2 linked regions of the Homo sapiens genome follow. The protein of the gene in region 1 purifies or fractionates together with the protein of each later gene. This does not show direct contact. Each region holds a gene or a part of one and is shown on either strand. Other genes may lie near its edges.

Region 1 (5,023 bases):
GAATCAACCTAGGTGCCCATCAATGGTGGACTGGATAAAGAAAATGTGGTACATATATACCATGGAATACTATGTAGCCGTAAAAAGGAATGAAATCATGTCCTTGGCAGCAACATAGATGGAGCTGGAGGCCATAATCCTAATCAAATTAAAATAAGAACAGAAAACCAAATACCACATGTATTCACTTATAAGTGGGGGCTAAATATTGAGTACGCATGGACAGAAAGATGGGAACAACAGACACTACAGAGTACTGGAGCAGGGAGGGGCACAGGTTGAAAAGCTACCTATTGAGTACCGTGCTCCCTACCTGGGCGCAATACTCCCATGTAACAAATCTGCATATGAAGGCCTGGTGCGGTGGTTCATGCCTGTAATCCCAGTACTTTGGGAGGTTGAGGCAGGTGGATCACCTGAGGTAAGAAGTTCAAGACAAGCCTGGCCAACATGGTGAAGCCCCATCTCTATTAAAAATACAAAAATTAGCTGGGTGTGGTGGTGCCTGCCTGTAATCCCAGCTACTTGGGAGGCTGAGGCATAAGAATCACTTGAATATGGGAGGTGGAGGCTGCAGTGAGCTGAGATCATGCCACTGCACTCCAGCCTGGGCGGGCAGAATGAGACTCTATCTCAAACAAACAAAAACAAAACAAAAACAAGTCTGCACATGTACCCCCGTGTCTAAAATAAAAGATGGAATTTAAAAGTAGAAAAAAAGACTGGCCACATGTTGGTAACTGTTGAAGCTAAATGATAGTATATATAGGTTTACCATACTATTCTCTGTATGTCTATATATATTTGAAATTTTCCACAATAAAAGCAAATTTTAAGGAAAAAATTACATTAAAATTTAGGTACCAATTGCTAGAATAAGGAATTCCATAATTTTACTGTAAATACTGTATAAAAATCAACCTTATTTGCCTGTACTTTACTGAGGGACAGCATTCTTCAATAGTAACTGGATACATAGGCTTAGAGTCTGACTGGTAACTAAATTTAGGGGAAAAGTGTAAATGCCATAAAGAAAGCATTCTTCTCAGCTTGTGCTACCACAAATGAGCATACTCCACCATGATGAAAGAAACATAAATTAGTAGATGCAGTTAATCAAAGAAGAATGCAAATCTGTAATAGACAAGGTGGAAGCCATGATGTCATCCTGGGACCAGGCAGAGCTAGAGAACACAGACTGTACCATGGAGTAACTTGGAGTTGCAGAGGTGACTGGTAGCACCCAACAGTAATTATTATTAATTACAGTGTCAGATGAACTAAACTCCTAGTTATCTTAACTGCATGTTAATGGATAGCACAATAATGTCAATAAGGAACTGGTGAGGCCTGGAGGAGCAGTTGTATAGGCTAAAAGGCAGGAAAATGAGGCAGAAACTCTTTATGGTGTTGTCACGGAGGGCAGGGGCTGGACAGTTAGGAAGGCCCTAATTATTAGCTCAGAGAAACCGGGGAAGAAAATCACCCTGAGTGAAGACACTGTGAGCATGTTGGGACACTCAAAATACTGGCTTTGCTGTCCATTACTCTAGAGGCTCTTTTCTGTGACTTGAGCAGCAAAAACACTCAAAGCTTGGGCTATGTGCTGGACAATGTCATTGTGAAAGTCTGGATGGCCAGATAAGAAGTTTTGTTTGCCAAAGGCAAAAGGACTGAAGTGGCATTAAAAGATACTTTGTATCATACTGATAATTTAACTTTGGCAATTTTACAATCTCAATTATTTATAATTGTTTATGTACTGTTCCATTTGCTTGGAAATGGATATAAAGACCAGAACCAACATGCATAATTTCATCACAAGCAGCTGCAGCACTGGCTCTTCAGTGGGCCTACCTCATAGCTTCATGGCCTGGTGGGGATGGGGGTGGCTATACAGGGCTACCGATTTTTGGTGTTGTAGCTACTATGTCTTTAAAAATCAATGCTTTCATTTTGATAGCGACAGAGAGTTTTGAGACAGTATATTCAAAGATGTAGGGATCTTTTCCTCTGGATTTTCATAACTGATATATTAGCATAATCTAGTTATGCAATGTGCTTAATTCAAAATTCACTACCTGTAAGCAGTAAAGATAATGGAACTGTGATAAGAAAACCCATAGATGATGATGACGATGAAGACTTTATCATCGTTCTTGAAGACGGAATAATGCTGTTCAGCACATAGGCAGCTTCCTGGGGCAGTGGGTAGGGTGCTCAGTGCTCAAGAGATCATTAAGCCCACTCTGCTCTGGGATCAGTCCAAAGTGACATGAAAGAACTGTGAGAGCTGTCAGCCCAATTCTGGTTTCACAGAAGAAGAAAATGACGTCCAGAGTGAGGAACTGACTTACTTGACTGAGATCCCCCATTTGCTGATTGATTATGAATTTAAAGCCATATTTCACAATTCCCAAACCAATGGTCTCCTTTCATTATACCACTCTTCTTCTTTTTTTTTTTTTTTTTGAGATGGAGTCTCGCTCTGTCACCCAGGCTGGAGTGGAGTGGCGCGATCTCAGCTCACTGCAAGTTCCGCCTCCTGGGTTCACACCATTCTCCTGCCTCAGCCTCCCGAGTAGCTGGGACTACAGGCACCCACCACCATGCCCGGCTAATTTTTTTGTATTTTGAGTAGAGATGGGGTTTCACCGTGTTAGCCAGGATGGTCTCGATCTCTTGACCTCATGATCCACCCACCTCGGCCTCCCAAAGTGCTGGGATACCACTCTTCTTGCATATGAGAATGATGATGCATTACACACACACACACACACACACACACACGCGCGCGCGCACACACACACACACACACACACACACACACCCTCCTCATGGAATAGAATCTAAGCTGCATCTGGCCGGTATCTACCAAATAGGGACCAGCTGACTTGGCCAGAGAAAGCCACCGGACTGGAGGAGTAATGGACACATGAGTGTGTGTGCTTGTGTGCATGTGTGTTCGTGTGTGTGTGTGTAAGTTCTATTGGGGTTACAGTGCTGAAAACACTGTAGAGCCTCTTCTCTGTTTCTTGAGCAGCAAAAACACATAAAGCTTAGGCCACGTGCTGGACAGTGTTAAAATTTATGGACTTGACTTTTCTAGAGATACTCTTCATAAAGGCTCAGTTTGTTGGAATCAATGGGTTGTGGCACTTTAAAGTGTGGTTTAAACTAGGAGACAGAACTTGGGTCTTAGAGTCTGAAATCATGGTTTCTTCAACTTAAAGTGCGACACTGTTTGAACAAATGACTTAACCTCTCAGTCTCAGTCTTCTCACCTTTAATCTGAGAGAACAATGCCTGCCATATCTTTGTCATAAGGTTTTTCTGAGGGTAAAATGTGTACGAAAGTACTTTATAAGATGTAAAGTACATATAAATGCATGGTATTACTATTTCTGCTATTATTATATAAGGAAGTTCATGCAGAATTAATACCAAGGCATGCTGGCTCTTAATAAAAGTGTGAAGTAGGCCAAGTGGTCTGTGGCCCACTGTCACCTACCCCGCTTCCTGCTGTCCTGGGTCCTCCAGCTCCCAACTGGAAGAGCTACACGGAAGGTGATGGAGGAAGCCTTTCTGGACCCCACCCAATGACAGCCCCAGGGTAGGCTGCCTGCCCATCCGGATTACTCTATTCTCACCTGTGAAAGGTTAGCTCCTCAACTGTGGCTGCTGTATCTTTCTCTCCTTCACAAGCAGGGTAGGTAACAGGCAACTAGACTAGGACAGAGGGAACAGTGATCTCTGAGCAGTAAGGGATAGTAGGAAAAAAAGAGAAGTTACACGAGAATGTGCTTTGATCTATACAAAGAAAGACAAGAGCAGGAGCAGGGTGGCACCCTGTATTCACATCACTCTGCTGAGATGGGCACGGTGCAGAGAATGCGTAACCATAAGCATTAGACTTTACTGTGACACTCCAAGAAAATGGAACCAAATGGGTTTTGGCTTAGAATTCTTTCTGACAGCTTCATGTCCATTAAAAATACACTAAATGTCAGGGAAAATTTACCACAGCATGTTGTTTTGCCAAGAGGAAAATTTGTTAAATCAGGACGAACATTTTAAAATTCTCCACAAAATCATTTCAGTGACTTATTTTCCATTTATTTCTATGTAGAACACTACACACTTTGGGAGAAATCACTTATATAAACACACACACACACACACACACACACACACACTGTTCTTTTTCTTTTTTCTTTTTAGTTTTGTATCTTGAGAAATAGTCAGTGTGGTTCTCTATTTTATTCTTTAAAAAAATCACAGAACTATTGCCACAATATCAAGAAGTCATCATGTTAGAGTGGCTACTATTTATTTTGATTTTTTTCACCAAATGATGCTTGATCAGGATATTATCCTAACTTTAAAGAGAGAAGTGGATTGAAGAGGAAAAAATTGGGATTTACCACCATGTACTACACCATGCTTGGCATCCTATTTTATTTTATTCCATCCTGAGAACAATTCTGCAGATGGAGTATTTCTATATGCATTTTACTGAAAAGGCTCAGACAAATCAGGTAATTCTGCTAGGACCACGAAGCTGACAAGGGACAGAAATGGGATTCTAATTCAGAAGATGCTTTCCCCACTAGTCAGTGGTGAAAAGGAAGCAAACAAATAAATCATCTGGATTTTTAAAAAGTTTGTTATTTGCTGGAGGTGAGAAAAGAGGAGTGAGTGGGAGAAAAGATGAATCAAGATTAGCTACAGGTTGATAACTGGAAGCTGGGTGATGGATTTCACTGTACAATTCTGCTGCTTTTGTAGGTTTGAAAATTTCCAAAATCAAAAACAAAAGAGGCAATGTCAATGGACATTGATAACATAGAAAATATTACATATAAATAATCTTTTGTTGTTTATTGAAAGATGATAAAGTTTTACAAAAAGGAGAAAAAACCTAATCTTCAATTCCTAGAGATGTTTGTCAAAAAGTAACTGGGCTGCCCCAGTTACTTTTGTATGTATGCATGTATTTGTATGTATGACATGCAGCTTAACC
Region 2 (5,023 bases), about 180 Mb from region 1:
AATAGTTTCAAAAGGAAATTTCAAGACTTCCAGGCGTGGTTGGCTGCCACCTGTAATCCCAACACTTTGGCAGACCAAGGTGGGAGGACAGCTTAAGCCCAGGAGTTCAAGACCAGCCTGGGTACGTAGTGAGACCTCCTCTCTACTAAAATGTGTAAGAATTAGCCGGGCATGGTGGTATGCACCTGTAGTCCTAGCTACTCAGGGGGCCGAGGCAGGAGGATCTCTTGAGTCCAGGAGGTCAAGGCTGCAATGAACCCTAATTGAATTACTGCATTCCAGCCCAGGTGACAGAGCAAGACTTTGTCTCAAAGAAAGAGAAAATTTCAAGATAAAGATGTAATACTTCTCTGATTTCCAAATCAGAAATCTATTACAGCATTTATTATACTGTATTAGAATGATCTGTAAGCATCCCCATCTCCTCACCTTCAGAACAGGTTATGCCTAAATATACAAGCCTTTCAATAAATGCTTACTGAATGAACACACTGTAAAAGCCTCACCCCAAAATCAAATACTTCTTTTACCTTTGGCATCATATCTTCCATGAATTTCTGCCCTCCAAACCCCGGTTCCACTGTCATAACCAAGGCCATATCTATCTGATTAGCCCATGGTGCCAAATACTCAACTGAGGTTCCTGGTTTGATGGCAAGGCCAACCTGTAACAGACACAAATATGCTATATCACATTTACAATTACTTCTGTATTATATTATTGTGGCATAGCAGGCCCAGTAGAAATATCTGTTCTTATTTTTTAAAAGTTAACAAGACTATTAAATGTAAGTATTTTCAACAAGCAGTAGCTTTCAGAAAACTTTAGTGGAATACATAAATGCTATGTGACAAAGAAGTTAAATCCTGGCATCATAGCTGAAGAACAGCTGCTTAAGTAAGGTATTCTTTACCTGCAATGGGCCCTGACTGTGCCACTGCACTTCAGCCTGGGTGACAGAGCAAGACTGTATCAAAAAAAGAGAAAATTTCCTGTTTCCCGCAAATCTTCCCAACTGAGAGTGAATGTTACAAAACACTCTCATCACGATTTCTTACCTTCATCCCATTCTCCCGAATGTCTTTAATCAAAGCCCCTGGGTTCTCAGTAGCCTCGAGATGAAAGGTGTACTGATTGGCTCCTGCTACAGCCATTGGCTTTACCCACTGTTCTGGCTTGGACACCATCATGTGCATGTCTAGAAAGAAAAGACACTTCAAAATATTACTGAAAAATACCTGGCTCATGTTATTGGAAGCCAACCTGTATGTAGTTTTTGCCACTTCTGATAAGAACTCTTTGGCCATCACACAAATCATTATTTAAATAGTTCTAATTCAGTATAGGTAGTTTCCTCTTATTTTGAAGACAAGGATTTATTTAAATTCATTTACAAAAAACACTATTTTCCCACAAAAAGCATACAGTGCTGTATATAAAAAGTTAACATCTAAAAATCAGGAAATCTAGGTCCAGGTCCAGGAAATGCCACTCTAAAAAACTTAAAGAATAAGTCATACTATCCATGCAAACTAGTTTCCTCTAGGAAAAATTAAGTGATCCTTTTCATTTATTCTTTCAATTTATCGAGCTATTGCTGCATCATTAATTATTCTAGGTCCTAGGGTTAGAGCAAAAACATGAAACTCTCCTGTCATAGGGATTACATTCTTAATGCGAGAGTCAAACAATAAACAAAATAAGTAAGTAAAATGCACACTAGGTTGGCAGTTAATATGGCTGGTGTGCCTGGGGAAGGAGATACACCAGTCAGAGGTCAGGGAAGCATGTGGTGAGGAGAAACCCTTCAGCATTCTGCAGGCCACTGGGAAAAACCACCACAGTGAAGTGACAAGATACTATCGACTGAGGAAGCTACGATAGCAATAACCCAGGTGAAAAATGATGGCAGCAATTCGGGATGGATATGTTCTTAAATAAGAGCAAAGAGAGCTGAGGATAGATGAGATGTGGAGGATAAGAGGATCCTCCATGGATAGATAGATGAGAGGAAAATAAAGATGGCATCAAGGATTTTGACCTTATCAACTAGAAGAACGGAACTGCCATTAATTGAGAGGCAAGACTGCAAGAACAAATTTAGGGGGAAGGACATGTTGACTGCAAGAAACCTGATATTCATCCTAATTCTAAAGCTTGATTCATATAAACACATAAGGTGAAAATGGGCATGGCCTTCTTAAAGATCTTGATTTAAAACATAATAGCATTTCATAAGAAGGAGAGGGCAGCTTAAAACAAGCTAAACCAAGAAATAACACTGTGAAGAATCCTGTGTTTGATAGATGGTAGTGAGGAGAGGTTTTAAGTTTTTTATTTTGCTAGAGGAAGCACATTTCTGAAACAGCCAAGCTATATTTAAGAAAAAAATTCTAACATTTCAGAACAATTATGAAATACAATAAAGCCTTGAAAAAAAAAAGTCAGAAAAAGAAAGTATAAAGCTTGACTAATAAAGTCAAGATTAACGTTTGTATTTCTAATCCAGCAAAAGTAATTGTATGAGAACTTTTTTTTTTTTAATAGAGATGAGTTCTCACTGTTTCCCAGGCTGGTCTCGAACTTCTGGCCACAAGTGATCCTCTGACGCTGGCTTCCCGAAGTGCAGGGATTATAGGTATGGGCCACCACACCCGGCCTAAATTAGAACATATTTTAATAGGTAAAACTTTATTCTTAAAAAAATGTATTAAATCTGGTGTTTCTTATTCTTTGCATCATAAACAAGGAAAATTCAAGCCGGTTTAAAATACCTACTCCAGGCCGGGCGCGGTGGCTCACGCCTGTAACCCCAGCACTTTGGGAGGCCAAGGCGGGTGGATCACGAGGTCAGGAGATCGAGACCATCCTGGCTAACACGGTGAAACCCCATCTCTACTAAAAATACAAAAAAATTAGCTGGGCGTGGTGGCGGGCGCCTGTAATCCCAGCTACTCGAGAGGCTGAGGCAGAACAGCGTGAATCCAGGAGGCGGAGCTTGCAGTCAGCCGAGATCGCTCCACTGCACTCCAGCCTGGGCGACAGAGCGAGACTCCATCTCAAAAAAAAAACAAAAAACAAAAAAACCTACTCTATTCATTCCTTAAGTTACCAGACTGCTAGCTATGTCATCCTTACTCAACCTCTAGCATCCAGTAACCACTAGCAACCCTCAATGGAGAAGTTCTATGGTGTTCAGGGAGTCAATGGTTCAGCAAATCTGTGCATAGTTAACATTAGATCAGCAATTCCCAATCATTCTATCATCTATTATAATCATAATCTATTATTCATAAACTTGGTCAACAATATGCTGATTAAAAAGAATCTAAGGTCTATTAAATTCTAAGTTACATTAAAAAAACACTATATATGGCTAGGTGCGGTGGCTCAAGCCTGTAATCCTGGCACTTTGGGAGGCCAAGGCAAGTGGATTGCTTGAGCCCAGGAGTTTACACTCTTAAAAATTATTAAAGACCCCAAGAAACTTCTGTTGATATGGATTATATTTATAGATATTTAATGTATGAGAAATTCAAACTAAGACATTTTAAAGCATGTAATTTTTGGCGGGTTTGGTGGCTCACACCTATAATCTTAGGAGGCTGAGGAGGGAGGATGGCTTGAGCCCAGTTTGAGACCATCCTGGGCAACATAGTAAGACTCCTTCTCAACAACAACAGAATAATTAGCTAGGCATGGTAGTGTGCCCCTGCAGTCCCAGCTACTGGAGGGGAGAGGTGAGGTGGGAGGACTGCTGGAGCCCATCAAGACTGAGGCTTCAGTGAGGTATGAAGGCCACCACTGCACTCTAGCCTGGGTGACAGAGCAAGACTGTCTCAAAAAAAAAAAAAAAAAGGATAACTCTATTACCTATTAATTAAGAGTGGTATTATTTGTTTTACATTTTTGCAAGTTTTCAGTGTCTGGCTTAACAGAAGACACCTATATTCTCACATCTGTTCTGTATCTAATCTGTTGTAATACAGATGTTCTGTAACTTACAATGGGGTTACATCCCAATTAACTCAATCTAAATTGAAAATACTGTTATCTCTAACTGCATTTAATATACCTAACACACCAAACATCATAGCTTAGCCTAGCCTATCTTAAATGTGCTGGGTGGTAATTTTATAAAGGTTAGCTGCAGTGTGCACTCTGTAAACCCTATCAATGAGCTTTTCATTCTTTGTTACATTAAAACCCATTGTTTGTCTTGTATTTTGAATGGGTCTTTTAAGTACTGATTTACTGAGTTACACACATCTTACAAATAGTGACAGATTTCATTCCATAGTACCCCAAAATCACATTTGGTAAAATAACTACAGATCTCATCAGAAAAGCTTGTTAACTGTTGGGACGCTATCAAACCCAGAGTGGTAAGATACACAAGTTTTTTAAAATTCTAATTTTGGGAACAAAAACTGACAAGGTATCTTTCCTTGAAGAGACAGCCTCATTTAGTTAATATTTTTTAAATGTCATTAAAATAGCCAGGTCTGAAAAACCATAGTTGATCTGTCAGTTGTTCTTTCAAACAAACATAGTGTTCTGGAGGAAAGCAGCTAGTTCAGATCACACCTCTATGGTGCAAGTGGTTTTCCTTGAGAAAACCATTATGTTCCAGTATGCAGCAATGCAGCACAAGCACTTTATATGCACTTCCTACTTTGCCACACAAAATATTAAAAAGGCATGTATTCAGGGACCAAGATTTATTAATTTCTACTGCTTCATCAAGGATATTTATTGCAAATGCATGATGATGAAGAATAACTCCTGATACAGTCCCTGCCTTGAGTTGGTTAAGGCACCAGCAAACTAACTCATCAATGTTTTTGTACCATCAGTAGAAATAATGGCAAATAATTTCTTAGGATTATGAAAATAGTTTTGATATACTCTCATGGATGACCCGAAAGGGTCTTAAGGATTTGTGTGGGTCCTTATACAACATACTTGAGGATCACTGATTTAGACAATAACAGGAACAGACTTTTCCCATCACTGTATTTC

What was found. The genes of interacting proteins can lie anywhere in the genome.
Region 2: the proteins of RBKS (region 1) and RPE fractionate together in Homo sapiens (co-fractionation; one large-scale study listed by BioGRID). This does not show direct contact.

What each region holds. Positions count from the first base shown.
Region 1 is NC_000002.12:27,837,566-27,842,588, forward strand, and holds part of RBKS (ribokinase), read right to left. Parts: intron 1-5,023. UniProt on the Homo sapiens protein: Catalyzes the phosphorylation of ribose at O-5 in a reaction requiring ATP and magnesium. The resulting D-ribose-5-phosphate can then be used either for sythesis of nucleotides, histidine, and tryptophan, or as a component of the pentose phosphate pathway.
Region 2 is NC_000002.12:210,012,149-210,017,171, reverse strand, and holds part of RPE (ribulose-phosphate 3-epimerase), read right to left. Parts: intron 1,200-5,023; coding exon 1,060-1,199; intron 969-1,059; coding exon of another isoform or gene 915-968; intron 666-914; coding exon 531-665; intron 1-530. UniProt on the Homo sapiens protein: Catalyzes the reversible epimerization of D-ribulose 5-phosphate to D-xylulose 5-phosphate.